Linked DNA regions of Homo sapiens: all the other regions are linked to region 1. Evidence: fine-mapped expression QTL. A gene starts in region 1. Each other region holds a variant in brackets. All regions are shown on one strand. Distances are from middle to middle.

Region 1 (8,259 bases):
TGGAATTATAGACAGGAGCCATGGAACACAGCCCAATAAAATTTTATAAACAGAAACATGCAGTGGGTTGGAATTGGCCCACAGGCCATAGTTTGCCAACCCTTGATACAAAGCAAAAATAAAAAACAAACAAAAATTCTTATACATGCAACATGGATGAATACAATGTGAACAAAAGAATAAACTGTATGACTCCGTTTATATGAAGTTTAAAAACATTTGAAAATAATACATGGTCATAGAAATCGGGACAGTAGTTGACTGGGGGAAGCGAGTGGCTCCATTGATAGGAAGGGGCAGAAGGAATGAAAATGTTTTATATGTTTATCTGGGTAGTAATCACAAAGGTATACACATATGTAAATTTCACCAAGCTACACACTTTTTTTTGTTGTACATAAATTATAGAACTAAAAAACATATGTAGAATTCAACATGGATAAAAAATATATTAAATACATTAAATCTACCTTAAAAGATGTGGGTGATAGAGTGAGGAAGTCTAACAGAAGTCTAATCATAGCTCCTAAAGAATAGGACAAAAATGTGTGAAAATAAAGAGATAAAAGACAAAACTTTCCTGAATTAATGAAACATAAACCTTAGAGACAGGAGATTTTATTCATATATATATATACATTTATATAAATATATTTAATTTTTATATAAACTCTACAGAGAGATTATATATAATCTATATATAAAGTGTATGTGTATATATTATATATATACACACACCTACATACATTGCCTCAAAAGTCTGTGAGTACAAATTATTCTTGATGATACAAGGAGCAGTTAAAACCATAAAGCAATTCTCGAATTTCAAAGAATTGTTGGCCTTGACACGTATGCTAACTACAGTGCAAATTAGAAATCAGTAACAAAAGGATAACTCACAAAACCTTCCACATTGGAACTAGACTACTTTCTACAAATCTCTTAGGGGAAGAAAAAATATCACAATGAAAAAATCTTAAATTCTTAGAACTGAACAATATACTACATAGAAAGCAGCAGTAAATGAAAATCTGCAGTATTTTCAAATGACAAATAAACCAGGATTAACAGCCTGGAAATAAGCCCAAACATATCTGGGTACTGTATGTGACAGAAGTGGCACTGCTAATCACTGATATTGGGACAATTACCTTTTCATGTGGGAATCTGAAAATTAATTAAGCTTGATCTCATAACATAAAATATATACATCTCAATATATACATGTCTCAGGTAAATTAAAGAACAAAATGTGGACAAAACATAAACTTAAAAATTCTTAGAAAAATATTCAGAATACATTTCATTAATAGTAGAGTATCTTAAGACAAAAAGCATAAGGATTAATGTCTACAGTTTAATATCTGCAAGTATATAACAAATATTTGTATCCAGAATGTTTTCCAATATAAATTTCTGCAATGATGGAAATATTCTGTTCTATAATGTATAATGTAAAATATATAACATAATAAAATATAATAAAATATTAAAGTCATATGAGGCTATTGAGCACTAAAAATGTGGCCTGAAAGAACTGAGGAACAGAAATTATTGAGGTAAATACAATATGTTAGCATTTTAAAACGCTGAAAGTCTGTAAAGTTCTGTGATTTTTATATACTTTTTAGTATTTCGTTTTTCATAACAAAATTTGATTTTAGCTAAAATTACTATATAAAATATTCCAGTTGTGTACAAAACATGTAAATGTGACTTTTGGGAAAGCAAACACACCAAATGATGTTTTCTCCTAAATGCTTTTTGAAATATTATAAATTAAGTTATAAGAATACATAAAGAATAATTTAATGAATACTGGTATGTCCACCATGGAATTTATGAAATAAAACATTACTGATAAATTCCCTAGGTACTCCTCCCTGAGCAAGATTTTTTTTTTCTAAAAAGAAGCCAGGAAATAAGAATAACAGACGGAGAGCCCTAGACTCAGGCTTCTTCAGTTTGCAACACCCATATTTTAACATATTTGGGGGGAAATGTAACATTCAAACCCAGTGTGTATCATTTAACAAAGAGTTACAAAGCAAACACCCATGTAACCATTGCACAGGTCAGGCGATAAAGCATTTCCAGCATCTCTGAGCCCCTGACCCTCTCCTCCCCACTAGGAGATGACCATTAGCTTGACTTTTTTTCTTTACTACTTTTAATGCCTATACATGCATCCCTAAACAACAGCTTTGCTCCACCAGGTTCTGAATTTTACATAGAAGATATCACACAGCATTCTCCGGCAACTTTTTTTTTTTTTGGTTCAACACTGAAAGGCATTTGTGTTGAAACACAAAAATACTTCATTGGCCACTGTACAGTGTGCCCTTTTTATGAGTGGTGTATAATTTATCTTTCTCCTTCAGGTAGGCATGAAGGCGGCATCCAGTTTTCTGCCATTACAGTCAACCTTCTTGTACACGTCTGCTTGTGGACATGTATTAAAATTTATCTAGGGCAGTGGCTTTCAAACTTTTTTGTCCATGACTCATACTAAGGAATGACGTTTTACATCATGACACACATTTGTGTATGTATGAAACTGAGGAGGGGGAGAGAGATTCATAAAGCGAACACCCCTATGACCTGAGAGACACTGATGTTCTATTCTCCGTCTGTGTTTTACAAATTCTGATCATCCATTTAAATGACTTTACGACCCACTAAAATGGACTTCAAATTCTGAAAAACATTGTTCTTAAGGATGAATACCCAGGCGTGCAACTGCTGGATCAGGAAACACGGACATCGGACGTCGTCAACTTTTCCAGATCCTTAACTGTTAAATGTTCTTATCTAAGCGCATATAAATTTACCACTATTTAACTTCAGAGCGAAAAGCGTGAAACATCAGAGAACATTTTATCTTTTCCCTCGGTCATTAAACAGTATTAATCACTTACCATGTGCTAAGTAAGCAATCTCTGAGCCCAGCGAGACCGGTGGGTTAATACGCGGAGGGGCTGCGGGGGAGGACTTAGGGGACCAGGACCTCAGTGAGGCCCCAGAAAGCACCCGGGAGGGGCCTCCGATCCTGCCTGGGAGGGAGGGGTTAGAGGAGGATTCCTGGAAGAAGGAGGACCTAAGCTGGGTGTTTCTATTTTTGATTTTTATTGGTTTCCTAAAACATGAAAGTAACACATTTGATGAGAAAAAATATTCAAAATTACAGGAGTATATTCAGTAAAAGGTAGAAATCCCCATTCCGCCCTGAAAGTTGGATGCGGAGACTAACAGAAGTCGCATTATCAGCTGTCCCGATCTAGGAAATTTTTAGGACCCCACGTTTTTAAATACTTTTAAGAGTATGTCTGATACAGTCTGTAATACTAAAGCATCAAAATAATCATATTTTCCATAAGAGACGAAAGTGCAAACAGTTACTGTCTAGTCCCATTATTACTTGGAACAGACTTTTTCTTCTTTTCCTTGTTCTGTTTTTTTCCTGGCCCGTTGGCGAGGTTAGAGCGCCAGGTTGTAAGAATCGGGTCTGTGGACCTCATACCAGATAGGCGCGAACGCCTCTGGCAGCGGCGTCCAGGGGGTCCGGCGGCACTCGCGGTGGGGCTGCCTGGGTTGCGGGTGACGATCTGCGGGGTCCCGCACCCGGCCCCGCGGAGCCCGGACCCGCACGTAGGCGGCGCGGCAAAGGCACACCCTCCTCGCGGCCGCGAACCCAGCGCCGTCCTCGCAGCGCGGCAATGCACGGCCACCGCTGCCCCCAGCCCGCCCGCCGCAGCCGCGAGCACCCAAACACCTACCCTGCGGGGCGACGACCCCCGGAGCTCAGGCGAGGCCGCTCGGGCGTGCCACCTCCGCGGCCATGACGGCGACCCGGGGAAGCGCCCCGCGCGCCAAGGCCCCGCGCTGCTGAGCTGTGAGCACGGCTGCCCCGTCCGTCCGTCCGTCCAGCACCCGCCCGGAGAGTGAGGCCAGAGCACGCCCCAGCCGTGTCTAAATCAAGGCTCGGGGCGGTACCGACGGGCTGAATGACAAATGGCAGATGCCGTGGGCTTTGCCGCCCGCGGCAGCCAAGAGGATGGCTGCGCCGAGGAGGCCGCGCGCAGGCGGGGCTCGGGAGCCGGAACGGCGCGGCCGCGAGGAGGGCGCTGGGGCCCCTGGCGGGGGCGTCACGTGGCAGGAGGAGGCCCCGCCGGGGAGCTGGGGGTCGGCGGCCGAGGCGGGGGGAGCTGAGCGGCACCCACACGTCCTGCGGGCCGGGTCACCGGTGGGGGCAAAGCCAAGGTCGCCCAGGTACAGCGCTGGCGCAGGTAGACCCGAGCCGGCCTGGGGTCTGCAGCGGGGCCTGCTAGCCGAAGTCTCCGCCAGGATGGGCCGCCAGAGCCCAATCACACATGAGAAACGCGACAGATGCTGGGACGCTGCAATAGGCCAAACTAACTTACCTCCTGTGCCAGCAGCGCCCAAGTGCAGCTGCCCAAACGTGAGCACTGACCGTGAGCCAGGCACTGTCCTAAGCACTTTGCAGGTAAATACGTGTAATCCTCACAGCAACACTGGGAGAAATACCCGTCTCACAGCTGAAGAAACGAAGACGCAGAAAGGGTAGACAGAAGTAATTTTCTAATTACGGTATCACACTACGTCTGCTTCATATAATTTCAAATTTTTCATGTTACTGGAATTTAAGAAAAATAAACTGAAGGGAATCTCTATTGCTTTCTTCCCTAAAAGACGTGCTTTTTAAAAGGCCTATAAGCATTACGTAAAAAGATTAAGAGAGGTGTAAGGAGCTCACTACATGTTCGGGTTTAGAAAGTCTCATAGCTCTGAAAGATGAGGTTAATTAGCATCATACACCTCCACCTACCTTTAGGGGGTAACCCTGCCTCTCAATTTCCATTAGTTCTGTTACTTTCGGCTTCCTAGCAATGAGAACATTTGCAATTGCTCTGCAACTTTATTTTTCCAGATGTTGTCTTAATTCTATCTTTAAATGAATTTGATATTCACTGTAACTTATCTATCCCTGAATTTTTATTTTTATTTAGTTCTTGATGGACTTCCTTCATTTTCAAGTCATATTCCTAAGGAGGGTTTATAGAGTGCTGCCATGTTTGAGAAGATCTGGTGTTTTTCTCTATACATAAATAAAAAGTGAGTTGGGTAAATATTTTCAATTCACACCTTCCTTCAAAACCTAACAGAACAAGATGGCAATTGCTTTATTTATTTTTTTATTATACTTTAAGTTTTGGGATACATGTGCAGAACGGGCAGGTTTGTTACATAGGTATACACATGCCATGGTGGTTTGCTGCACTCATCAACCCGTCATCTACATTAGGCATTTCTCCTAATGCTATCCCTACCCCACTAGCCCCCCACTCCCCAACAGGCCCCAGTGTGTGATGTTCCCCTCCCTGAGTCCATGTGTTCTCATTGTTCAACTCCCACTTATGAATGAGAACATGCGGTGTTTAGTTTTCTGTTCCTGTGTTAGTTTGCTGAGAATGATGGTTTCCAGCTTCATCCATGTCCCTACAAAGGACATGAACTCATCCTTTTTTATGGCTGCATAGTATTCCATGGTGTATATGTGCCACATTTTCTTAATCCAGTCTATCACCAATGGCCATTTGGGTTGATTCCAAGTCTTTGCTATTGTGAATAGTGCTTCAATAAACATACGTGTGCATGTGTCTTTACAGTAGAATGATTTATAATTCTTTGGGTATATACCCAGTAATGAGATTGCTGGGTCAAATGGTATTTCTGGTTCTAGATCCTTGAGGAATTGCCACACTGTCTTCCACGATGGTTGAACCAATTTACACTCCCACCAACAGCGTAAAAGCGTTCCTATTTCTCCACATCCTCTCCAGCATCTGTTGTTTCCTGACTTTTTAATGATTATCATTCTAACTGGCATGAGATGTTACCTGATAAGCAACTTCAGCAAAGTCTCAGGATACAAAATCAATGTGCAAAAATCACAAGCATTCCTATACCCCAATAGTAGACAAATAAGAGAGCCAACACATGAGTGAACTCTGATTCACAATGGCGACAAAGAGAATAAAATACCTAGGAATACAACTTACAAGAGATGTGAAGGACCTCTTCAAGGAGAACTACAAACCACTGCTTAAGGAAATCAGAGAGGACACAAACAAATGGAAAAACATTCCATGCTCATGGATTGGAAGAATCAATTATCATGAAAATTGCCATACTGCCCAAAGTAATTTATAGATTCAATGCTATCCCCATCAAGCTACCATTGACTTTCTTCACAGAATTAGAAGAAACTACTTTAAATTTCATATGGAACCAAAAAAGAGCCCGTATAGCCAAGACAATCCTAAGCAAAAAGAACAAAGCTGGAGGCATTACACTACCTGACTTCAAACTACACTACAAGGCTACAGTAACCAAAACTGCATGGTACTGGTACCAAAACAGATATATGGACCAATGGAACAGAACAGAGTCCTCAGAAATAACACCACACATCTACAACCATCTGATCTGTGACAAACCTGACAAAAACAAGCAATAGGTAAAAGATTCCCTAGTTAATAAATGGTGTTGGGAAAAACTGGTTAGCCATATGCAGAAAACTGAAACTGGACCGCTTCGTTACACCTTATACAAAAATTAACTCAAGATGGACTAAAGACTTAAAACATCAGACCTAAAACCATAAAAAGCCTAGAAGAAAACCTAGGCAATACCATTCAGGACATAGGCATGGGCAGAGTTCATAACTAAAACACCAAAAGCAATGGCAACAAAAGCCAAAATTGACAATTGGGATCTAATTAAACTAAAGAGCTTCTGCACACCAAAAGAAACTATCATCAGACTGAACAGGCAACCTACAGAATGGGAGAAAATTTTTGCAATTATCCATCTGACAAAGGGCTAATATCCAGAATCTACAAAGCACTTAAACAAATTTATAAGAAAAAAACAACTCCATCAAAAAGTGGGCAAAGGATATGAACAGACACTTCTCAAAAGAAGACATTTATGTGGCCAACAAACATATGAAAAAAGCTCATCATTACTGGTCATTAGAGAAATGCTTCAAAGATTTCTGTGGAAAGATCTTAATCCCATGTAATTTTCCCCTTGGAGGTGGCTTGATTTTTCTGCTTGGATACCTGAAGAATTCTTTAACATTAATATACCCTTTAGTATTCTTATCTGGGCTATGCCTCTGTGTCAGTTATTCTAGATCAATTTTTCCCCCCAGCATACAGTATGATCTTCCAATTTATAGATTATGTTCTTTTCTAATGTCCCATGTATATTATATATCTGAATACGCTGCTTTTTCAGGGCTGAATGTTGTTTCTATCTACTTGTTCTGTGATCCAAGGTTTTTCGGACAAGGAGAGGTGGGGGAAAAGGGGATGTGTGGAATTCAGCTCAGACAGAGTATAAAGCTTGCTGGAGGAACTCAACCTTCACATCTGAGATTCCTTTAAGTCCTCTGGCAGCTGGACTTCAAGCTAGCCAAGGGAACATCCCATGCCTCAGAGTTTCAGTTCATTTGCTCAGTTCAGCACAGTATCCCAGAAAGTGGGAAACTTTCCTGCCTCTGGCAAGATCCAACAGTGGTATGCAAAGGTTCCTCAACATCTCACAGGTGTGCCCTGCCTTTCCACATTGGGGGACGTTTGTGAGAATTCTTAGGATTTGGTCTGATCATCTTTTTCCTCAACATGTCTTGCAGCGGTGGGTGGAGGGCTGGGCAGACATAGGTTCATCTGGAGACAAAGCACGCCTCCATAGAATCTTCTGTTCTCTTTGTTTTTGCTATCAATTCTCAAATTTTACATTATAAGGTTGTACTTTTTTCTTCTTTGGTTGCAGCATGTAAGTTTTTTGTTGCTTTCTTTCCTTTGGGTGATTTAGTGTTTTGTTTTGTTTTTGAGACAGAGTCTCGCTCTGTCACCCAAGCTGGAGTACAGTGGCATGATCTTGGCTCACCGCAACCTGCCTCCCGGGTTCAAGCAATTCTCCTGTCTCAGCCTCCTGAGTAGCTGGGATTATAGGCGTGCACCATCACAACCGGCTAATTTTTGTATTTTTAGTAGAGGCTGGTATGGGGGTGCTGGGTTGGGGGGAAGTTCGCCATGTTAGCCAGGCTGGTCTCAAACTCCTGACCTCAGGTGATCCGCCTGTCTCAGTCTCCCAAAGTGCTGGGATTACAGACGTGAGCCACCATGCCTGGATGATTTAGTATTTTAATTTTGATTTTTTTAGTGCTTC
Region 2 (8,259 bases), 28 kb after region 1:
GCCTTCCAAGTAGCTGGGATTACAGGCGTATGCCAACACGCCTGGCTAATTTTTGTATTTTTAGTAGAGACAGGGTTTCACCATGTTGGCCAGGCTGGTCAAACTCCTGACCTCAAGTGATCCAGTGTGCTGGGATTACAGGCATGAACCACCATGCCCAGCCTACCTAGTTCAATTCTAAGCATTCTTTGGTTGCTACTATGTTCCAGGCAATTACTAAGTAAACCCTGAGAGGTAAGAGATTAAGAGGGACACTATATCGGGGCAATAGACATGTGATAGATAATTCTATATGGCATGATAAGTGATGATGAAGGACCACATGCTATTATGGACACACAGATTTAGGTCACTTAGCTGAACTCAGTAGTAGAGCCCAAGTTTCTAGAAGAAATTATTCATTAGATGAATTTTAGAAAACAGGACATCAGCAAATAAACAAAATGGGAAGAGCATGCTAGGTAAAGGTCATACCACAAGAAGTGCGCAGATATGTGAGTGACATGAGGACTACTGCCTGTAATTGCTAAAGCCTGGAATATACAAAGAATGGTGAGAGACGATGTCAGAGCTACTGCAGGGTCAGCTTGGACTTTTTACCTACAGACCTAGGGCATAATAAATACCAGGTTTAAGCCACTAAGTTTGTAGTAATTTGTCAGGGCAGCAATAGAAAACTAATATGAACTTTGCTGCCTGGAAGTGGTGTGCTGTTGTAACAAATATCTAAAAATGTGGAAAGCCTTGGAATTGGGGAGTGGGTAGAAGCTGGAAGAATTCTGAGAAACATGATGGAAAAACCTAGATTGTCTTCAGCAAACTGAAATACAGACAGGAAAGGTGGTACCAGTGAGAGTTCAGAAGGAAATGAGGAACACATTACTAGAAACTGCAGTAAGGATGATCTTTGTTATATACTAGTAGAAAGCTTAGTGAAATGTGTCCTGTAGTTATGTGGAAAGCCAGAAGTGTAAACAGTGGACTGGGATATTTAGCTAAAGAGATGTCCAAGTTTAGAACTGATCAGGTAACTTAACTACATGCCAGAACAAAGTCCAACACTATTTAAAGGAATAAAACAAAATCCAGCATAAAACAATGTAAAATCACAAGGTCTACCTTCACATCAAAAAATTATCAGGCATGCAAAAAAGCAGGAAGATATGACCCATAACTAGAGAAAAAAATCTGTCAAAAGAAATGGTCTTTTCTAAGTCTGAGGTAATGAGACTTGAACATAAAAGCAGCTATTATAAATGTGCTCCAAACACTCAAGAATGTAGAAGAACCCAAATAGAATTGCTAGAGATGAAAGATACACTATGCAAAATCAAAAACACATGGATGCTTTTACTACACTACAGACATGGTCTCCATGTAGTACATATAAAACTGCAGACTTCAATTTTCCTGGAGTCTTTTATACTGTTAATTACATCTCCATGCAGGGCTGAAAAGAATGACCTGTGTTTACATGTAAAACCACGTTGTTGGAGGAGGGGGTGCCCCAGCTTAGCGAACCCCAGCCTCCCTCCTGGGGTGCCTCATTCCAGGGCTCTTCCATCTTTCTCTAGCTGCCAAGGCCCAGGCTGACAACCCCCCAACCACACCACACCCTCTGGACTGAAGCCTCTAGGCCCCAGATTGCTGACTCAGGCTGCTGGGCACACAGCCCCCAGGCTGACTGGAAGACGGGGCTCACTGCACACTCATCCCAAGGGCAGTGACTTAAGCCTCTCCAGTTTTCCTGTTAACTAAGTAAGCCTCAAGTCCTTTTAGTGTTTGTTTCTCTTCAAGAAAATAAAACACTTATTTGTTTCCTTTGTATCCTCCTCTCATTCAGGGGGTTCAATAAATCATCTGCCAGAAAGGAAGTGTGCAGCTAATTCAGTCCTCCAGCAAAGAAAAGTGGGAGGCCCCGACAAATTGTCATTATGCAATAATGAACCTTGGACAGCCAAAATTTCATCTACAATATCAAACATGGAACTTAACTTTGGAGTTTATTTTATTCTAAAAATCAGGTTTTCCCCCTAGCTTTTAAGATTGAAAAAAAAAATCTTCCTTGGAGGGGACTGTCATCTTACATAGCTGACAGTAATTTTCAGATTTGTGGAGTTTTGCAAGCTTTAAGCAAAGTAGATGAACCAGGAACAAAGCATCAGCTTTGTTTAACATCACTGAGTAGACTAATACTCCTCCCAGAGCCTGATCTAGGACTACAGCTGAAGGCTTTCAGGTTTGGACAAAAATCTTTGAGTATTAACTTGGAAATAAGGTAAATTGATGGATGGGTATGTAATACATTGAGAACAGTTAAATGTTAATGATAGAATCTAGTGGTGGGTATAAGGGCATTCACTGTAAAATTCAACTTTCCTGTACATTTCAAAGTTTTTCATACTAAAATGTTTCAGGGGGTTGGGGGTATATTAGGGTTATCTAGAGACACATAACTAATAGGATAGATGTATATATGAGAGGGAGTTTATTAAGGAGAATTGACTCACACAATCACAAGGTGAAGTCATACAATAGGCCTCCTGCAAGCTGAGGAGCAAGGAAGCCAGTGGTAGATCAATCCAAGCACCAAAAACTCAAAGATAGGGAAGCTCACAGTGCAGCCTTCAGTCTATGGCCAAAGGCCCGAGAGCCCATGGAAAACCACTGGTGTAAGTCCAAGAGTCCAAAAGCTGAAGTACTTGGAGTCTAATGTTCAAGGGCAGCAAGCATCTAGCACGGGAGAAAGATGAAGGCCGGAAGACTCAGCAAATCTGCCCTCCCATCTTCTCCTGCCTGCTTTATTCTAGCCGTGCTGGCAGCTGATTAGATGGTGCCCAACCAGACTGAGGGTGGGTCTCCTCACCCAGTCCACTGACTCAAATGTTAATCGTCTTTGGCAACACTCTGACAGAGATGCCCAGGAACAATGCTTTGCATCCTTCAATCTAATCAAGTTGACATTCAATATTAACCATCACAGGGGGCAAGAGGCTTTGTGTCAAATCCCTGTTGCTATGAGTGGTGAGACTAGAACAAAATGCCCAATACTCAAATTACCTCATTTTCTTGTTTTTTCTTCTTTTTGCCTCTAGATATGATACCTCATTTTTTTAATATGTGTAATGTAGATCATTACTGATCTCATATGGTTGATGAGAAAAATGACAATGTCAAGAACATTTCTGGCACTACTAGAGGCCCTCAAATCAAGGGTAGCCACCTGGTGGGGCAAAGAAACGCAGTTCAGGGATCACTGGAGTGGGCTGGTGAGAAACTTCTTTAAGGAGGTGGAGGAGCAGGGGCATTTCTGGGTTTTATTGTGCCTGGATGGCCATCTGATTACGTGTGGCTTAGCCTGGAAACCCTCAATGCAGGACTCCAACCCCAAGAAAGTGCTTCAAGGACACCCCAGGTGGACCCAGAGGGCAGCTACAAGCCGACTTTTATGCTCTGCCTCCAGAATGACTCCTTCCAATGCTCACTAATGCTTAGGGGCCTGAGGAGAAGTCTTTTATGCCCAGAAATGACAACCACTTCCTCTGACTCTAAGAACAGTCCATTTAGGCTATTTCATCTTTGCCAGTTTCATTTTAGGAAACACAAGCCTTATAACACAATCCTGAGGAAATCAGCTGTGAAATACACAGACTTTGTGCAGAGAAGTGGTGCAAGTGTGCAATGCTTCAGTCTTAGTGACTGAAGACAGCCAGCCCACATGCCCAGTACCAAAGGGGCACATGCTCCACACCAAATGGGCAAAAATTCCACAGCCGAGCCTGCCCAGACAAGGGGACCCGCTACACAACTCCACACCCTCAGCACTTTGTGACAGGACAATTACTGCCGCGTGACAGGACTCCAGTCCTGGGGCTGCTACCGGGTGCAAGTGACATGCTGGAAAGAGCGTGGTAGACATCTAGGGGCCAACTCTAGGAA[C/A]ATGTGTTTCTTATTCAGAATAGCTTTTTGTTTTGTTTGTTTTAACTTGTGAGGCTTCTTCACTACTCAGGGACGAAAGAAAGAGGAAAGAATGGAAAAAGTGAAACTACAGAACAGAAATTGTGCAACTTCCAGAAAACTGCTCTAAGACAAGCAAGAAGGCAGACCTGCTAAATGCCCATTATGACACTATTTGACTAAACAGGTTTGAAATACTCTGGCATAAAATGAAGGCCATCCCCTAATGGTTTGTTCTTGGTGTTGGACAAATCATAAAAGGACCAGACATTGCTGTGATGAATTATATGCCCTGGAGAGAGGCAGAAAGTGATTACACCACCTTCATTTGCACATGGAAAGGAAAACTAAAGGTAGTATCTTAAATCTTTCCTTCGCACAGTCTGCTTGCCTCTTGTCACAGAGCACGCCTGCGTGTCTCTAAAAGCATGTGATATTTTAGTGCTTTAATTAAGTATACATGTAAAGGCAAGAGTCCACCTGATACAACACTGATTTTTGAGACTGAATTTTATGCTGTGACCAGAGGACCACTGAACCATTTAAACAGAAAGACACCATGACAGACAACTCTCTAAAACAGAGCTAATCACTACCTAAAAGAGAAGTTTTAAAAAGATGAGAAGCCATGTGACAAGTCATATCAGAATGCAGTTTTAGGCCAGGCACAGTGGCTCACATCTGTAATCCCAATATTTTGGGAGGCCAACGTGGGACAATAACTTGACCCCAGGAATTCCAGACCAGCCTGGACAACACGGTGAAGCCCCATCTCTACCAAAAAAAAAAAAAAAAAAAAAAAATAGCTGGGTGTGACAGTGTGCACCTGTAGTCCCAGCTACTTAGGAGGCTGAGATGGGAGGATTGCTTTTGCCCAGAAGTTCGAGACTGCAGTGAGCTATCATATGATTGTGCCACTGCACTCGAGCCTGGGTGACAGAGCAAGACTCCATTTCTAAAAAAAACAAAAACAAAGCAGTTTTAGAAGATATTTTAAAGAAAAATGATCATGATGGTGACAGTTTCATTTCTTTTAAGGAATACAATGCATATCAACATTATGAACTATGTTTTTTATTTCTATATTTTCTTAGATATTTACTGTCTTTGTTTACAAAATAGTCACTTTCACAAAAAAACCCAAACCCAAACTACTGCTTTTGATGTTGTGCTATTGTACATAGAAATGTACACAGTAAGGTTCTGCAATGAAAAGCACGTACTCTTGAGACTTAGTACTGCTTTGATTCATTGTTCAGGCTACAATTTCCCCCCTTAGAATGTAAGAAAAGTTAGCGCTTGTCGCCAATAAATGGTAATACTAAAATGAACTAACTCCCACCTATGCAAAGAGAAAAATAATTGAAAAAAATGAGCAAAGTCTCTGAGATCTGTGGGAACAATATCAAGTTGTCTAACAGATAGTAGTTGGAGTCTCAGATGGAGGATAGTAATAGCATTTGACAAAATAATGGCTGAAAATGCTACACATCTGATGAAAGCGATAAGCCTGCAGATCTATGAATCTTAATAAACTCCAAAGCACAAAAAATAAAGCTACATGTGTTAAGACGGTAATACGACTGAAACTTATCTACTTATTGTTTGTTTGTTTGAACTTGTGAGGCTTCTTCACTACATAAGGTTGCCCTATCAAGATTTTGGTTAATTTCATTGTAGAAACTGACAAGCTGTTCCTAAAATTCATATGAAAATTCAAGGGAACCAGAATTACCAAAAAATCTTGAAAGAGTAGAACAAAGTTAAGGGGCCATCCTCCCTAATTTCAAAACTTACTACAAAGCTACAGTAATCAAGACAATGAGGTACTGGCATTAAGGCTAGCTATAGATTAATGAATAGAATCAAGCACCCATAAATAAACCCATATGTCTGTACCCAGTAGATTTCTGACAAGGATGCCAAGACAATTCAATGGGGAAAGAATAGTTTTTTTTCAATGAATGGATAAATAAAATGACATGTCCAAACAAAGAAATATATTTGGAAATAAAAATAAATGAAGTACTGATACATGCTACAACATGGGTGGCCTTTGAAAACATTATACTGTGTGAAGAAATCAATCACAAAGAACCACATATTATATGATCCCATTTATATGAAATGCCCAGAGTAGCCAAATCTAGAGAGACAGAAAGTAGATTAGTGACTGCCTAGGGCTAAAAGTGATGAAAGGAGTGGGGATGATGACTAAATGAAAAAGTCATAAACTTGATTATAGTGGAAAATGCACAACTCTATGAATATACTAAAAGCCATTTTAAATGGGTGAATTGTATGATATGTGAACTATATCTCAGTAAGTTGTTTTTTACAAAAAGAAAAGAAAACCATGCCAAGAGACACATCATAAAAATTGCTGAGAGCCAGTAATATAGAAAATAAATATCAGAAGTAGCTCAGGGATAGGGGAAAGACATAAAGTAAAAACACAAGCCACAAATTTGGGAGATAGGTTTGCTATTCCAGAATTATAAAAAGTGATTACAAATAAATAAGGAAGAGACAATCCAAAAGAAAAATGGGCAAGGCATATAAACAGGTGTTTTACTGAAGAATAAACAGAAATGGCTCAGAAACCAATGAAAAGATGGTTGACTTCATTAGTCATCAGATAATGAAATTTTAAAATATCACATGCTGGCCAGATGCAGTGGCTCACACCTGTAATCTCAACACTTTGGGAGGCAGAAGTGGGTGGATCATTAGAGGCCCAAAGTTTGAAACCAGTCTGGCCAACATGGCAAAACCCCATCTCTACAAAAAAATACAAAAATTAGCTGGGCATGTTGGCACATGCTTGTAATCCCAGCTACTCAAGAGGCTGAGACACGAGAATTGCTTGAACCTGGGAGGTGGAGGTTGCAGTGAGCCAAGATTGTGCCACTTCACTTCAGCCTGGGTGACAGAGTGAGACTGTGTCTCAAAAATAAAATCAAATAAAATATCACATGCCATTTTACACCCCAAAAATGAAAAGGTTGACAAGGAGAGATTTACACTTCTGATAGGGGTATTAAATAGCACAACCACTTTGATCAATAATTTGTAATAGTCAGTGAATACAAAGGGGTATATACTAAATGCTACAGAAATTCCATTCCTGGGTATAAATCCTAGACATATTTATGCATATGTACACCAAGATATATCTGCAAGAATGTTCACAGCAAATCTCTTTGTAGTAGCAAAAGGCCAAAAGGTCTATCAACAAGAAAATTAATACATTGTGGCACATAATGGCATCCTTATGCCAATAAAAATGGATGAAATTATAGTTAGGTTCAAAAGGCAAGCCTCCAGATAATTTATATCATATAATTCCATGTACAACATTCAACAACAAGCAAAACTAAACATATACAAATGTCAGGGAAAATGATGAACAAGGTTAGAAAATGATTAATATAAAAATACTGCACAGTGATAACATTTAATGAGAAAAAAAGAAGGAAGGGCTTAGGGAGGGACCTACAGGGAACTCCAAAGTTCATGGTAAGTACTAAATACATAATCAAAGCACTCAAAATAGAAAATATTTTAGTAATGTTTTAGCTAGTTAATATCTTACTTAAAACAAGGTCTAGGCCAGGCACGGTGGCTCACACCTGTAATCCCAGCACTTTGGGAGGCTGAGGCGGGTGGATCGCTTAAACCCGGGAGTTCAAGACTAGCCTGGGCAACATAGTGAAATCCTGGCTCTATTAAAAAAACAAAAATTAGCTGGGCATGGTGGCACATGCTTGTAATCCCAGCTACTCAGGAGGCTGAGGCAGGCAAATCATTTGAACCTGAGAGGCAGAGGTTGTGGTGAGCCAAGATCACACCACTACACTCTAGCCTGGGTGACAGAGGGAGACTCAGTCTCAAAAAATAAAGAAATATAAAAATAAAGAAAACAATGTCTAAAAAAAAATAAAAGCTACTAGGAGGTAGCCAGGCACAGTGGCTCACACCTGTAATCCCAGCACTTTGGGAGGCCAAGGCAGTCAGATCACTTGAGGCCAGGAGTTCGAGACCAGTCTGGCCAACATGGCAAAACCTGTCTCCACTAAAAATACAAAAAAATTTGTGTGGTAGCACATGCCTGTAATCCCAGCTACTTGGGAGGCTGAGACAGGAGAATTGCTTGAACCTGGGAGGTGGAGGTTGCATGCAGTGAGCTGAGATCAGACCACTGCACTCCAGCTCAGGTGACAGACTGAGACTCTGTCTCAAAAACAAAAACAAAAACAAAACAAAAAAGCAAAGTAATAGGAGATGAAGAAGTAAAGATAG
Region 3 (8,259 bases), 310 kb before region 1:
TCACAGGAAACTTTTAACTGGTGCAGTCAGTTTTGGTGGACTGCTTATCTTGTCAACGTGAAGATAATGCTTCAACAGCACACCCACCTCCTCTAGGTTCAAAATTCCTTATTTTATTGAAAAAGGTCCCTCAAGCTGGTTAAGCACACAAATAAGAATTGGGTGCATCAGAATCTAGTGACCCTAGGTCCTTTTGTAAAATGATTAAAACTCTCCTTAAACCTCAGAAATTATTTAATTTTATAGGCATCTCTTGGACCAGGAATTGCCTTGAGATGGCGAGATACAAGCATTCTACAAAGGCTGCAAACAAGACTCACTTCTCTTAGGCCCTGATCCGAATCCAGATTATGATGGATTGGGCATGGGGATCAGGGCATGCAGAAGCTCTTAGCCAAACCTCTACACCCTTTAGTTGTGACTCTGTCATTGTAGACTTTTAAGGCATCTTGCAGATTAGAATATGCTGAGCACTCAATCTGAGGAAGGTTAAAAGTCATAGAATATTGGTGTTCTTCCAAGTTGAGAACAGAACACTTGGATCCAAGACCCTATTTCAGATTCAACATTCAATACCCTAAGGCATAAAAATGGCGTCTTACTATAGACAGTGGAAATAACTGATAAGGATTTAATTAATTGCTTGTGGTTTTGCAGTGCCAGTCCAGGTTTATTTTCATTGCTGGGCACTGCAGTCCTAGAGGCAAAGGGAATGAGCATAAGGTTCCTGCTAGATCTTTAAAAGGGAAGGGCAGAATAAACAGAGGGCCCTTTGATAATGATTTCTTAGCCAGTCCAGTGGATAACATGAGTCTCATAATCAAGAATCCTCTGGGACTTTGTCATCTACATTGAATTTATAGGTGGTCTTTACTTAAAATATCTGAAGTTAATGGAATCATAAAACAGATCTTTCTTTTCTCTTTAGATTGTGACATTAGGCACATGTGGAAACAACAGTAAAATGCAACTTCCTGTGTTTAGCAGCCGTAGCAACACATCTTATACGGTGCAGGATTTTTAAAAACCAAAAGGAACAACAATTTGTATCTGACTAAATAGCGCCTAATCAGTTTCACCTTGATTTACTAAGCGTTGTATTAATCAAGTAAGCAACTGGCCTTTTCTATAAAATAGTTTTATGTTTGTTGGTTTGATTTTTAAAATTTTTTATTTTTTGCAGGTGCAAGCATAAAAATAAAAAATTCGCAATTTCCCAGCTGGTAGGAAATAGAGCCACGTCCAACTCTTAGCTCCTCTCTCATTCTTGTATATGATGTCAACCTTCTTGCTTAGTTTCTTTCCTTAATCCAGGGCATTTCTGCTATAGAGTAGTGGGGATTTCCCTCGAGTCTTAGTTGGTTTTAGCAGCTCCCAGCAATTATCTTGAGACCAACGGAGAATGCAGGTAACTGTTTTGGGTGGGTATACAGGAGTTTATTTATTTCAGGGGGCATTTTTGTTTTCCTGGAGACCTCTAGAAGACCAGGAAAATATTTTTCCAAGAAATTTTGCTGCCCCAATTGCTCCAAATCATAAATAACCCACTCTCCATTTTTATTCCCCACAAAACCTCTTATCAGCCTTTTTCCACTTGCTTACATGTATTATCTCTATTAACAGTAGCCACAACCCAAATCATGAATTGTATTACCCCATTCTACAGATGAGGAAGGGACTCTGAAAGGTTGAATTACAGACCTAAGGTTACCAGCTAGGATGGGGAGGAACAGATTATTACATTCAGATCTTTCTGGCACTGGAAGCCCATGTTTTTCCTTTGCAGTACTCACAGGTCTGTGTTTATATTTAAATGGCTATTTCCTATTTTTTAAGCATACGCAAAGTCATATCAGGGTGACACATAGCTAAAGAGTTAAACAAAACAAACCATTTTCTTCTCTGGAAGCTTTAGTGTGGAAATACCTAAGTGTCAGCCCTCTCTCCACTTGTGTTTGCTCCCCTTAGGGTACTGTTCTAACAGGAGATATTTGCTTCACAGTGGAAAGGTGAGATAGGAGAGGTGGTGTGTTCTGTTTAAATTGGAATAAAAACTTGTTGCTGGCTGCCAGTCTTAAAGAATGATTCCTCGTCATTGAACATGTTACATTGTAGAGTCAGATGTTTGCCACCACAACACTGGGCTATTATGCAAGGTAGTTCTACCTTGTAGTTCCGATATATTTAGTTAATTGAAAGCCTAAAATATTGCCACATAACTGAACATCTGTCATAATGCTATATTATCAAAGAATTTAATTTCAGATTAAAATGGTTTTATAGTTTTCTATATTGTTCCACTGTTTTCTAAGAGATTCACATTCTCGTGTGTGATGCCTAAAGAGAATGGAAAAAACAAAAGCAGTTTGGATTTAGTTCCAATTTAGTTAGGTAACTTATTTTCTTGTTTCTTTGCCATGGAACAAAATTGCTTTTCTGGCTTCCCCAATTAGGAGAAAGAAGGTTAAGACTGAAGAAAAATCTGAGATGAGAAAGAAGGAAATGTTAACAAAGAGAGTGCTCTTGAAGAAATTAATTTTCACCACTCATCACCGGGTGAAAATAGAAACTTCTTAAAAGACAATTTCACATATAAATTATTCCAGCTGTTTTTCAATTATTTGTCTTTGATGAATTGTCTTTCAATTACCTTGTAAAGAGCAATTAAGTGTTTGCTTACCTGAAAACTGTGTCAGCAATGTCTGTACCATTCTTATGAGTGTTAATCATCCTTCCTGCTGGCTCTGATATTTTCCCAATTTCAAACATTAGTGTTTGTTATATTATCTTTCAAAATATTTGGAATTCTACAGGAAGGCACTGTTGGAAACAATTTCCTCTGTGAAAAATCTAAAGACCTGCTAAAATAAATCATAGCCTAGGCCTTGTAAATTATTGCCCCACATTTACCCATGACTTATTCTTTTTGTAAATATTTTTAGGGACCTTTTTGTGGCCTAAGTACAGTATAGGGGCACCACCAGGAATAAAATCAACTTGCTCCCTGTCCTCATGGGACTCCTAATCTAGTGGTGAGAAGTATTATTTTTTCTTGCTTCTCAGAGAGGTAGTCTTTTTTTTAACCTACTCACTTAATAACAACAACAATTAAAAATCATTTTTATGGTTTCTGAAAACATTGGTGAATTGCAACTGGCTATTCTGAGGTTCTGTTACGGGCTTTTTCCCATCATTCTAGAACATGTTCAATGTTTCTTCAGACCAGTATTGAAAATCTAAATAAAAATTATATTAGAAAAGGATTTTGGAATAAGCTAGTTGGTTTGATGGTGCTCTAATTGGATTCAGAGGCTTTCTGTGTGTGTTTTATCCAAATCCTGCTGGAGCAACTCATTCTCTGGAATGCTTGCTTAACACACCTGTCATTTTAAAGAAAGAAACCAAAATAGAACATCTCGCAAGTGGGGCATCCTCAATAACTA[T/C]GTTAGAAAAAGTATAAAATCAATGCTAAAGGCATCATTATTATAAAATTATTTTTTTAAAAAGCAACTAGTGGAATTGTTTCTCTCAAGAGAATTAGGTGTACAAACCAAGGAATGTTAATCTTTTGCTTTTCAGTGGCTTTTAAATGGTTTCCTGTTTAATTTGCATAGGATATTTCTACCTTTTAGGCAATGCTATGAAACTAGACTAAACCTCTGTAGCCCTCAAACAATTTTACCCTGAATTTTAACTCATAATTTGGAGGCCATCTTGTGCTATGTCTGCCGTGGGAACTAATGCCACAGTACCACCGTGTGAGCCTCTGGGGTCCCCCACATTTCCTACTCACTACACACTGCAGGTCTACGTTTGGGTGGATGGTTGTTTGACTAATGTCAGCCTCTCTCATGGCCTGCAAGCCTCCTAAGGGCAGAGATCTGATCTGTTTTTGCTTACCATTGTAGCCCTTCCTCTATAATAGCTGCTCAGTTAATTGTGCATGAATGTTTCCGTTCCACAGTGAACACACTTTTCTACAGCCTCATTATTTTTGCAGATATCTCCTTCCTCCTCTCCCTTGGATTGTCCGAACCCTGGGTCTCCTTGGCAACACTGTTGCCCTGGTAATTCTCTTCAATGGTGGCTCTGTTGTCCTTTACCTCTCCTATCACAGGGGGCGCTGACATTGCATCAACTCCCCAGTGCTATTCCCTGCTCATTTTGCGTCCAGTCTTGTGCATGCCCTCATCTGAGGTAGGTGCCGTCTGCTGAGTTTTCCTTCACATTTCTTTGGTGCTGTCATCTCCTGACTTCCTGGTCATTTCCTCATATTCACTGGATGAAGTTCAGACTCTCCCTCTCCACCCCAAATCTCGCTATGACCTGAAGGAATTCAGTCCCCATGCAGTCCCCGTGTGGCTGGTCTGACATCCTGGCTGGTGCAGCTCTGCAGCCCTTCTTCTTTCTTGCATCTTCAACACCCCGACACCCAGGGCTCCTTCTCCTCAGCCCATGAACCTGCTTGAGTGTCCTTCACACTTTATGAACTTAAAACAAACAGCAAACAAAACCTTTTTCTTTACTTGTTCATTCTCAATGCCAAAGGAGTTCAACGTTCTTTATTGTGCAAAGCCCACTTGCTCCTAAATGTAATCATTCTCTAGGAGTTTACCCCTGGTCCTCAACAGCTGCTTTTGTTTAGAAGACTCCACCAAATAACTTCAACTCCAGCTTCTTGCTAGAGTGCCAGTAATGCATTTCTGACTGTCCGTTGGACATCTTCCCTTGAATGTTCTGCCAGCACCTGAAGTTCATGGTGCCTGAATACAAGCTAAAGGTCTCTCCTCCAAATCTTCTCTCTTCTTGACATCCAGCCATACCCTTGTAGAGGTTCAGGCCATGGAGTTCTCAGGCAGTTCCTCAGACTCCTCTCTTCTTTCTCCTCAGTGTCCCTCAGATCATCCATCATTTCCAGTCCCTTTTCGCTCCTTCTCTCCAAGTTCAGATGCCTGGGTTGCTGCAGTCATCTCTTAACTGAGCTATAAGGACGTAAATCTGGGAGCCTTGGGGACTCCGTATGACTAATTGACATAAATTCTTCTCCATGGGATGGATCTCCCAGCATCCTGTTTTCCATAGTACATGCCTGCAGGTTTCATGTCTGCCTTGGGGAGATTGTCCGGGATACTACATGTGGCCACGGTCTCTCCACAGATACCGGCCTTGGGGACCCTGTATGACTGCCAGGAGGCTCTTGGACATAGAGAGAACGTTAGTCACATTATATATATTCTCTGGGCTTTTATTTATCCACCAGCCTTTCGACTTAAATATATTGGTCTAGATTTAATGTGTTATTTTAATAATATTTGTGTTACATTCATCCTCAATGGGAATTTTTTCATAATTTTGTCTGAAACAAAATTTAGCCCCTTACTTAAAAACTGTGATATTTCAGCCAGGCGCGGTGGCTCATGCCTGTAAACCAAACACTTTGGGAGGCTGAGGTGGGCGGATCACTTGAGCTTAGGAGTTTGAGACTGGCCTGGCCAACATGGTGAAACCGCGTCTCTACTAAAAATACAGAAATTAGCAAGGCATGGTGGCATGCACCTGTAATCCCAGCTACTCGGGAGGCTGAGGCAAGAGAATCACTTGGACCCAGGAGCCGGAGGTTGCAGTGAGCTGAGATCTCACCACTGCACTCCATCTGGGTGACAGAACGAGACTCCATTGATTGGGGGCAGTGGGGAGGGGGGGCGAGAGGAGAACTGTGATATTTCAGTATATTTTATTTCACAAATTATATATAAGGTCTACCAGCTTCTCCCCTAAAGTTCTGTGCTGACGCACATTCCCAGCATGAACAGGGTGATCATTATCCTATCATGGATGAGTTGAAATTCTTTCACTTGGCAGATTGTCCATTGGGGATATATCAGCTTTTTCTTCCTTTTCACAAACACAGCACACACTCTACACACCATGACCTGCTCCACTTCAGACTCCGGGAGTTGTTGTATATGACTAACATCTACGGGGAACAAGATAGGTTGTTGGTTGATTCCTGTCACGTTTTTCCTCTCTGTAGCGACATCTTGCTATTCCTAAGCAGTCATCCTATCTGTTCATAGAGACAACCCTTCCCTTGTAGCGATAACAGTGGCATTCAAAACGTAAAATGCTTTTATTTACATTAAAATTGATTTTTCCATTAGCAAAGTGGCCCTTTGCCTACTCAATCAGAATTTCTGTAAACCCCAAATAAGAGCGACTTTATTTAATCTGTTAAATATCCTGTAGCAAGTCTAGGGGATGTTGTTCATGTCAGTGAATCAGGATGTCATGCAGCTGCACAAACATATTCGTTCTGCAGGCCTGTTGGCCACAAGTTTAAACTCTGGAATTCTCTGTCAGTGCTTGCAGGCAGATGGAAGTCTTTAGTAGCTTTTCCCTCTGGGAGTTTAAAAATAATGTCTGCCTCTGTTAAAAAAACAAGTTTAAAAATTGATAGTATCAAACTTCTAAAATTAATATTATGATAAATAAGGATTCTGTACAATCAAATTACTTTAGTCAGTATAAAGTATAGAGTACACTGCCTGCCGCCAGCGTGAAATTAACCGTGATGACACTGGGCATTGTTTTAGACAGCAAAACAGTACCTACCCTAACTCCTTGGATTAGCCCAATAAGTGGCTGGGAGTTGAATTGAGTTACTACTCATTAGGGTTTATCTCTTGCCTTATCTTAAAATAAAAATCCACTCCCACCCACTACCCTCCTCCCCATTTTTGTACAGGGAATACTTGGGAGGTAAACTCCCTGAGTTTAAATCCTGCTTACCAGCTGTGGGATCTTGCTAGTTGCTTGGTCTCTCAGCCTCAACTTCCTCATCTATAAAATGGGAATACTAATAGCAACTACTTCGCAGGGTTGTAGTAATGATGAAAGAGGCAGTATTGATAAAGCACTTAGAACAGGTCCTTTTTTTAGCATAATAAAATATCAAGTAATAGAATAGGTCTTAATGTGACCTACAAGACTGATACACTCAGCACAAAGCAATATGAAGTCATAGAATTTTTAAAGTTGGAAAGGAGCCTAGAGATCATTTAACCTAGTCTCCTAATTTCAGCAATGAAAAATTGGGATCCTAGCACAAGGTCACAGGGCTGATTAAGTAGCAGAGTTGGAACTAGGCTCCAACTCTCTTCTTGGCTTACAGTTTACCATCCCAGTTGGGTGGTCAAAACCCAGAACAATAACACAGATTTATTGCTTGTCCTGATTGTGCAATGTCTTCTTTGCTTTTTTTTTTTTTTTTTTTTTTGAGAAGGGATTGCAGTGGCATGATCTTGGCTCACTGCAACCTCCGCCTTCCTGGTTCAAGCGATCCTCCTGCCTCAGCCTCCAGAGTAGCTGGGACTACAGGTGCGCACCACGACAGCTAGCTAATTTTTTGTATTTTTAGTAGAGATGAGGTTTCACCATGTTGGCCGGGATGGTCTCGATCTCTTGACCTTGTGATCTGCCCGCCTCGTCCTCCCAAAGTGCTGGGATTACAGGCGTGAGCCACGGCACCCAGCCTGCTTTTTTGTTTTTTACAAATAGTCTTACTGCTATTTTAGAGCTACTAGGAGTGTTGCTGGTTCACCATGAGTTTAGCTATCATATGCCAATGGAGACAGCCTGGTATAGTGGGAAATAAGCCTGGATCAGGAATCAGGTGACCTAGACTCTTATCTCTTTCACTAGTTAACAATTTGGGAAGCCAGATAGCCTTCCTGGCTCCCAGTTTCCTTATATATAGGGCTTTAATATATAGCATAATGTGAAAGTACTAAACATGATAGTTGTCCCATGGTGGATAACACTGTAACCCAGTGCTTTTATAAATTACATTGCTCAGAACTACTGAGTGCTCTAATATGCATTGTAAGAATATATATACAACTTTTTTTTTTTTTTTTTTTTTTTTTTACAGAAAATAAACTACTGCTCTACCTTTAATCTTGCTTCGGTGAAATTCTAATTTATCATGGCTTCAGGGCAACATCAAAAGATGGTAGAGAAGTAGATTAGCTTTCCCAGAAACCAAGTAAGGGAAAAAAGTTTATAGATGAATCTCACAGACATTCAGTGAAAGAAATACAAAAGATTATATTGTGTAATTCCACTAAGTTAAAGTTCAAGAAGTGATAAAACAGGCCAGGGCACAGTGGCTAACACCTGTAATCCCAGCACTTTGGGAGGCCCAGGCAGGTGGATCACTTGAGTCCAGGAGTTTGAGACCAGCCTGGACAACATGGTAAA
Region 4 (8,259 bases), 300 kb after region 1:
TCAGGTAACAAATGCTTTCCTTAATGTGATGCTCTGCTGTGGAGGTTTTGGGAATAGAAGAAAGAAGAGGCTGTTATTGTCATACTGTTTGTAAGTTCATCTTTCTTTACATTCAGTGGATAACTAAAATCTACTATATATGCTGATATTTCAGAAATGGTGGTTCCCTTAACCTTCAAGAAAAAACAAAAGCTCTCATTTGTAAACACTTGCAAGCATTCTTGGGTTGTCTCTTGGTGGTACCCAAGTTTTTGCTTTGGCCGGTAAGAGACTTTTGCATAGTACTTTGTTGCCTTGCCTCTACAACATGTTAGGCTTGTGGATTGGCGCATGGTGAATAAGACACAGTTCCAGTTGTCGACTGTCTGTCACCTAGAGAGGGCAGGTACACAGGAATTTAAGAAAACAGATTAAACAGGCAGTTACACAGTTGTAAAAGTAAAAACAGCACAGATTGCTGTGTGAGCTCACGGGAGTGGTACCTGACATCCCAGGGCTTCAAGGAAGGCATCTTGGAAGAGTGGATATCTAAGCTGAGATCTGAAAGAATGAGTGGGGATGTGGGGAGGCTGTTAAGACAGAGGGAGTTGATGACAAGAGGTTTGGAGGTGAGAATTGTGAGGTTTTCAATATGGCTAAAGCAGGATGCTGGAGAATGAAGCTGAGAAGAGTGTTATAAGCCATCTTTAGGAGTTTGAGTTGTATCCTAAGCATAATGGTGAATCTTTGAAAGGGCTTTAAAATTAAAAAAATTTATATTTATATATTTATCATTTTTAAAATTCTGAAGTATTCAATCTAAAAAAATGTACAGGAAATGATATATCAGATATGCTCGTGCCCTCATTTGAAATTTATCAGCTGTTAATGTTTTGACTTTTTTTTTTTTTTGAAATGGAGTTTCACTCTTGTTGCCCAGGCTGGAGTGCAATGGCGCGATCTCGGCTCACTACAATCTCCCCTTCCTGGGTTCAAACAATTCTTGTGCCTCAGCCACCCGAATAGCTGAGATTACAGGCATATACCATCATGCCCAGCTAATTTTTTTTGTATGTTTTGTAGAGACATGGTTTCACCATGTTGGCCAGGCTGGTAATGTTTTGACGTATTTGATTTAGGTTGTATTTTAAAGAGCTAATTATGTCAGCATAGATAAATCTTAAAAACAATTTGACTACAAACAAAAATCAGGTTGCACAATGTATTGAATGGTACTGTATATAAAGCTCATATACCTGCAGAAATTGCCCTGCAGTGTTTATGTATTCATATTATAAATATATAGCAAAATACAAAAATTTTTATGGAAATTATAAACACTAGATTTCTTTAGAGATAGTGAGAGAGGAGGTTCTTCAGTTTTATCTATAATATTTAATTCCTCAATGAAAATAGAAATAGAATCTTAAATTAATATGAAATAATGCTGATTTGTGAACTGAGTGATGACTGTCTTAAGCCCAGTTCCTTGGAAGTAGGATTTGAGACAGAGATTTGTGTGCACTTGAGAACAATTCCTGTTAATGAAAGAAATGAGGGAAGAAGGACTGGGCCAGGGAAAAGCTGAAGTGTAGTTGAGTTACAGCAGGGCCACCATTGGATCCATAGGGAATGCTGGTGCTGGGATGGCCCTTCAGAGATTTCCCAACTTGAGGCAATGTGTTGAGCCTGGGGACCTTTGCCTTGACCAGTAGGCTTTTGGCTGACCCTGGGAAGGAGGTGAGGTGAAAATCTGGGCAAGGTAACTTGGCCAAGGGCAGTTCCTGGACGGATGCTCAGCTATGAGCCCTCAGCTGCTGGGGGAATGAATTTGTGCATTGCCTTGCCTGAAAGGCAGATCTGGATAGGAGATTCACTGCAGTCATGGACCTTGTACCATTTTCTTTTGCCTATTATTGTCTATTTCTATGTCTGAAAGATATGACATATTAAATAAAAAAAGCTTCCAATTTCTAGGAGCAGTATTCACCGAACTACTTCCCTGACACATACATACCTCACACCCTGCACACACCACACACCACAAACCGTAGCTGTAATATCAGGTTACATACTTTCTGTTTTATTTTCCCTTTTCTCTGTGTTTTTGGTTACTTGAGATGGCCTCCTCTCTCTCACTCCTGGTTTGGGAAGGCCTTGCTTCCTCTGAAAGCTTGTGAGCAGAGGGCTGATCTGATCAGATTTGCTCTTCTGAGTGGTGCTCTAGAAGCCACGTGGAGCATGGATGGTGTGGGGTGTGTGCTGGATGAGGCAAGCCTGGGGTTCTGGAGGACCTTTGGGTGGCTGTCACAGTTAGAGGATAAGAGGTATTGAAGCCAAAACTGAGATTGAGGTAGCTGGGAAGGAGGAGAGGGGAGAGTTTAGAAGCTTTAGGTAGGAGGCAGACCTGATAGGACATGGTGGTGGTCTTCAGATGATGGGTGGTGGATGGGATGGAGAGAGAAGCCTGGTTTTTGACTTTAACACTCGCAAATGAAGCCTTTCTTTCTAGGTTTTGTGGAGAGGGCAGTGCATAAGGGGATAGTAAGTGAAGTTCTAGATTGAGTTTTGAGGTGCCTGGAGATATCTGGGAAAAATATGTAATATATATATTTCTCTTACATGTATGAGACTGGCTTGGGCTGGGGTCTGCCCTTGAAAACTGGCAGCTGGAGTCTTGAGTACTTTCCTGAGTCATTTTTTGAGCTCTTTGCAAGATAATGTTAAAAATTCAAGAGGCCGGGTGTGGTGGATCATGCCTGGAATCCCAGCACTTTGAAAGGCCGAGGCGGGCGGATCACCTGAGGTCAGGAGTTCAAGACCAGCCTGGCCAACATAGTGAAACCCTACCTCTACTAAAAATACAAAAAAAAAAAAAATTACCTGGGCATGGGGTCGCGCACCTGTAGTCCCAGCTACTCAGGAGGCTAAGGCATGGGAATAATTTGAACCTGGGAGGTGGAGGCTGCGGTGAGTCAATATCACATCACTGCACTCCAGCCTGGGTGGCAGAGTGTGACTCTGTTGAAAAAAAAAAAAATCAAGAACTGTTGCATATTTTATTTATCTTTGTATTTTCTGAGATATTTTTGACTGACCCTAAAATGAGCATCTGGATGGTAGATGACGGCAGCGGAAGATGAAGAATTAAGAAGTGGTTTTTGATTTGTAATATTTTTTAGTAGATATTATTAGTTGATGCCGCAGTTGTTGACTGTATTTATCTCCCAAGGGCATAGGAAGCCCCCTTGCAGATATTACTCTACCTAGCCTGACTGGGTGTTTGGGGAGGGAGAGAAGAGGTTAACAATAAATCCTGCAATATGTGCAGAAGTTTTTACACTTGTGTTTCTGCATATTTTCTTAGAAAAAGGGTCCACAGTTTTCATTATATTCTCAAAGGAGACCTATGACTTAATGAAAAGTTAAGTCTTGTTAGAGGAAGAGTGACATATTATAGGGTTATGTCTTCATAATGTTTCTTTTTTTCTGAAA[T/C]TAGATTGGCAGTCCAATACGCTGGCACGAACTGAGGGTCTCACACTTTTGCTGTAACTCAAATTCTGGTCCTTACTTTACTTCTACTGCCTTAAAGCCACTCAAACAAAAGACCTGATTGCTAGAATTAGGTTGAGAAGACACAAAGTTTGAAGGGCAAAATTTCTGATAATGTTTGACCCAGTTTTGCATATAATGTATTTTTATTTGTTGATGAATATTTCCCTTTTGTTGCTAAAAGTGGCAAATAATCAGACATAGATTACTAATTAACAGTCTGCCTCAGTTTTTTTTTTTTTTAATTAATGAAACTTGGGCTTCATCAAGCTCAGGTGGAATGGATATCACAGTGCTTTATTTTTTCTGACATCAAAAGAAATTTCTTTGTCAAAGTGTAGACATGTTTGTTGTGACTGCCTTTTGTGTGGGTTCTTTTCTCCCAGCCCTCTCCTACTACAGGAGAGAGAGATAATGGCCCTTTGCTCCTCATTCCGCATTCAGACCAGATTCCCCAGCTGCAATCTCCTGCCATCGGATTGCATCACCAACTCAACCTAATTGGTGAGATGTCACTCCCTCCCTCCACCGCTCACTCTCATTTCTCAGTGAGTTTAGCTCTGTCACTCTCTCTAAAAGTTACTCTTGTTTTAGTGATTTGGGTGTAAACATTGATGATCCTTCTAATACTCTGTCCTCTTAATTTCTCTAAGTTCTCTTTCTAGTGATCTTGTCTCCCAGTGTGGTGGGTATATTCTGGCTAGACCAGGTCATTGTTTATGGTGGCAGCCCCTCTGTCATCTGAATTTAAGCGTCCCATTTTTTCGGTACTAGCATGGCTCACTGCAACCTCCGCCTCCTGGGCTCCAGCAATCCTCCCACCCTCGGGTAGCTGGGGCTATAGGCATGTGCCACCACGCCTGGCTAATTTTTGTATTTTTTTTTGTAGATAAGAGGTTTCACCATGTTGCCCAGGCTGGTCTCAAACTCCTGGGCTCAAGCAATCCATCCACCTCAGCCTCCCGAAGTGTTGGGATTACAGGTGTGAGCCACCATGCCCGGCTGACTTTGCCTACTCTTGCCCTAAGAAAATTGAAGCAAACCAAAGAGGAATCCAGAAACTTCAATACCACATCTATCCTCAACCAGAACCCACCCAAGGCCACCCTAACCGTGTACATTGTACCCATCCTCCTTTACTTACTCAAAGTCACCTCCCTTCTCTCTTCTGCATCCCTATGATTTCCCCTTTAGTGGATCCGCTTACAAACATGCTATTGTTTTTCTTCTAGCAAAACTTTACTTTGATCCCACCTGTCTCTGTAGCTACCACGCCATTCCTCTGGTCCCCTTTATGAAAGAGCTCCTCAAAGATTGTATGTACCAACATTTGCAGTTCGTCTCCTTTCATTCCCTCTTAAGACCACTCAAATCAGGCAGACCCCCTACCAGTCCAGTAAAACTGCTCTTGTCAAAGTTATTAGGGACCTCCTTGTTGCTAAATCCAGTAGCCTGTTCTCAGTCCTTACCTTATTCCACCTCTCAATAGCATCAACACTGCTGATCACTCCCTCCTCCATGACTCTTTCTTCATTTGGCTTCTAGGACACCCCACACGCTCCTGGTTTCCCACCCATTATCTTTTGCTGATTCTTCCTCTTAACGTTGGAGGGCCCAGGACCCAGTCCTTGGACCTCCTCTCTGTCCCCACTGTTGCCGTTTGTCATCTCACCAGTATCCTGGTTTAAATACTATCTGAATGCTGGCTCAAATTTCTATCTCTAGCCCAGACCTCTTCCTCTGAACTGCATACTTGCATTTCCAGTTGTTTACTTCACATCTTCTATGTTCAGATCTGAAAATCTGAACTCCTGATCTCCCGTAAACCCCAAAGCTGATCCCACAGTCTTGCTTGTCTCAGATAAAGGCAATGTGATTCTTCCAATTGCCCCAGTTTTGGAGTCATCTTTGTAGTCCTTTCTTTCTCGTATACCCACATCCAATGCAGCAGATCCTGCTGGTTCTATTTTCCTAATACTGAATTTATACAGAATCCGGTCATATTTTACGATCTCCACTGCTACTGTCCTGGTCTAGGGGACCATTGCTTTTTCTGGAATTGCCTCCTTACTTGTCTCTCTGCTTCCTCCCTTGGCCCATGGAGGCTGGTCTGAACCCCACAGTAGAGGGATCCTTTTCAAATCAGAAGTGGATATGTTGCTTCAGGTTTCCAAGTCTGCAGTGACTCCCCATTCCAGTTGTAATAAACGCGAAAGACCTTACAGTGATCTACAGGACCCTGTTTATCCTGCCTGGCTTCATCTCCCCTTACTAGTTTGTGCTCATTATATGAGGCAGGCACCTCCCAGGTCAGGGCCTGAGCCCTCTTCTAGCAGATAACCTTGTGGCTAACTCCCTCCTCTCAGAGAGCTACTGTGCCAGTCAATTAAAATAGCAAATCCTTCCCTCATTAGCCCTCTCCACCCACTTTATCCTGTTTCATTTTTTCCCATAGCACTTACTGGATTATGCTGATTGTCTTTTTCCACTAGAATGCAGGTATTTTGTCTAGGTTGAATCACTAGTATCTAGAACAGTGCCTGACACATAGTATGTGCTCAATAAATACACGTGTGCAGAAGCAAATCACATTTTTCATTGCTTTCCACAAGTGTGAGCCTGGGCTACATAGTGAAACCCCATCTCTACAAAAGATATAAAAATTGGTCTGGGTGCAGTGGCTCATGCCTGTAATCCCAGCACTTTGGGAGGCTGAGGCAGGCGGATCACCTGAGGTTGGGAGTTGGAGACCAGCCTGGCCAACATGGAGCAACCCTGTCTCTACTTAACATACAAAATTAACCAGGCATGGTGGCTCATGCCTGTAATCCCAGCTACTCAGTAGGCTGAGGCAGGAGAATCGCTTGAACCTGGGAGGCGGAGGTTGCAGTGAGCTGAGATGAGCCATTGCACTCCAGCCTGGGTAACAAGAGTGAAACTCCGTCTCAAAAAAAAAAAAAAAAAATGGCTGGGCATGGTAGTGCATGCCTGTGGTCCCAGCTACCTGGGAGGCCGAGGTGGGGAGACAGGGATCACTGGGCGTGGCGGGGGGTGGGGGGCGTGCCTGTAATCCCAACTACTGGGGAGGCTGAGGCACAAGAATCGCTTGAACCCAGGAGGCAGAGGTTGCATTGAGCTGAGATCGTGCTACTGCACGCCAGCCTGGATAACAGAGCAAGATGCTGTCTCAAACACAAACAAACAAACAAAAAACAAACAAGTGTGCAATCCCTGAGAAAAATATCAGTTCAATCTTTGTTGATCTTTATTGTCCCGATTGATTAGCTGCATGTCAGCCTTTGACTGTGTTTCCCAGATGCTCACGACAGATCGATCACTTGATGTTGTTTTCAACAGGCAGTCATGAAATGAGCAGACTGAGGTCAGTGTAGTATAGATATTTGTCAGCGTGGTTGCCAACTGCCTTTCCTCTTCTAAGATTGCCCTTTATTGTGTGATTATATTACATTTTTAGTTGGCATGAAAATGCCCATTTAGTGAAATGATGAGGATCTTCCTGGGGGAAGAATTCTGGCGTAAGAAGCTTTCTTCAGATTACTAAGCACTCTAAAAGGTCCCAGGTTATGGGGCTCTGGAAAGTAACGATGCGAATACTTCACTTGGTTATGTGATTTTTATTTTTGCCTTGGAAGTCTTTCTGCAAACAAGTCTTCCAGTGGAGGCTCATTTTAGGAATGTGACGATGCATTGCTGATAGGTAGGATGTGGCTTTCTATACAGCAGAGTTTGGGGGGTGGGACTGGCAGGTGAGTAGCTCAACCCAGGCTTCTGAGGGTCCTTCATGTCTTTTGGAACACAATTTGAAAATCACTGCTTTAATTGCTAAATTCTAGAAAACCTGGATGCCCTATTTAAAAAAAGAGCTTAGCTTAGTGTCAAAGAGGAACTAGGTTCCAGTTTTAGCTCTGCAGATCACCAGCTGTGTGACCTTGAATATGTCACTCAAGCTGTCTGCACAATTAATTGATTTGTTTGTAAGGTAAGGAGTATGGACTAGATGACCTCACACTGATCACTTTCTAAGCTCCAGAAAACCTAATTGTTAATGCTTAATTGTGCGAGCTGTGCTCGGGAAGGGCTGTGTTCTAGTACCTTCTTCCTCATCACTGTCATTTCAGTATTATCTACACTGATCTTCACAAATATTCTGCACACTTGGATTCTAACCTGCAATATTGCTGTTGGGGTTATAGAAATATAGATTATATGATGGTATTTAGGGTAAGCATTTTTATCTCTAAAATGAGTTAGATATCAAGGATGGCATGGTATTAGATTACACAATATTTGAAAAGAATAATAAGAAAAATCCTGCAGGATTTAAAAATCTTATTAGTACTCTTCTGTAGAAATACTTTAGGGAATGGTTCAGACAGTATCAGGTGCTGTGGGTGTAAGCATGGCCACCTGCTAGCTCTGTGAACCTGGACAAATGGCTTAGCTGCTCTGTGCCTGAGTAAAGTAGAGATAGTAATAGCATCAACCTCCTCGTGTTGTAAAAAGTAAGTGAATTAACATATATAAAGCAATTTGGGGCCAGGCGCGGTGGCTCATGCCTGTAATCCCAGCACTTTGGGAGGCCGAGACGGGTGGATCACGAGGTCAGGAGATCGAGACCATCCTGGCTAACACGGTGAAACCCCGTCTCTACTAAAAATACAAAAAATTAGCCGGCCTGATGGCAGGCGCCTGTAGTCCCAGCTACTC

Direction of the effects. Alleles are on the strand shown, and positions count from the first base shown. SD is a standard deviation of normalised expression in the study named. Not every link is listed here.
For the expression in whole blood of the gene that starts at base 3,946 in region 1, allele T in region 4 goes with a lower level than allele C (large effect, 1.6 SD a copy in TwinsUK).

The links. PIP is the estimated chance that this variant, and not a neighbour inherited with it, causes the effect.
Region 2: its variant is fine-mapped to the expression of PLAGL1 in whole blood (INTERVAL, PIP above 0.99).
Region 3: its variant is fine-mapped to the expression of PLAGL1 in thyroid (GTEx, PIP 0.92).
Region 4: its variant is fine-mapped to the expression of PLAGL1 in whole blood (TwinsUK, PIP 0.90).

The regions. Positions count from the first base shown.
Region 1 is chr6:144,004,314-144,012,572 of GRCh38, forward strand. PLAGL1 (PLAG1 like zinc finger 1) reads right to left here and starts at 3,946. Exons shown (of 8, transcript NM_001317162.2): 1 at 3,777-3,946. It overlaps HYMAI (hydatidiform mole associated and imprinted), which reads right to left and starts at 3,946. Exons shown (of 1, transcript NR_002768.3): 1 at 603-3,946. RefSeq lists silencers at 3,375-3,557, 3,753-3,942, 4,133-4,182.
Region 2 is chr6:144,032,680-144,040,938 of GRCh38, forward strand. It overlaps a transcript of PLAGL1 not described here and the pseudogene LOC100131041. Among named protein-coding and RNA genes, the nearest start is that of PLAGL1, 29 kb to the left of the region's middle. RefSeq lists an enhancer at 3,882-3,931. The variant C/A (reference allele first, on the strand shown) is at 3,940.
Region 3 is chr6:143,694,874-143,703,132 of GRCh38, forward strand. The region is part of intron 1 of PHACTR2 (phosphatase and actin regulator 2); the gene reads left to right. Among named protein-coding and RNA genes, the nearest start is that of PHACTR2, 21 kb to the left of the region's middle. The variant T/C (reference allele first, on the strand shown) is at 3,444.
Region 4 is chr6:144,304,058-144,312,316 of GRCh38, forward strand. The region is part of intron 2 of UTRN (utrophin); the gene reads left to right. Among named protein-coding and RNA genes, the nearest start is that of UTRN, 23 kb to the left of the region's middle. RefSeq lists an enhancer at 2,032-2,151. The variant T/C (reference allele first, on the strand shown) is at 3,475.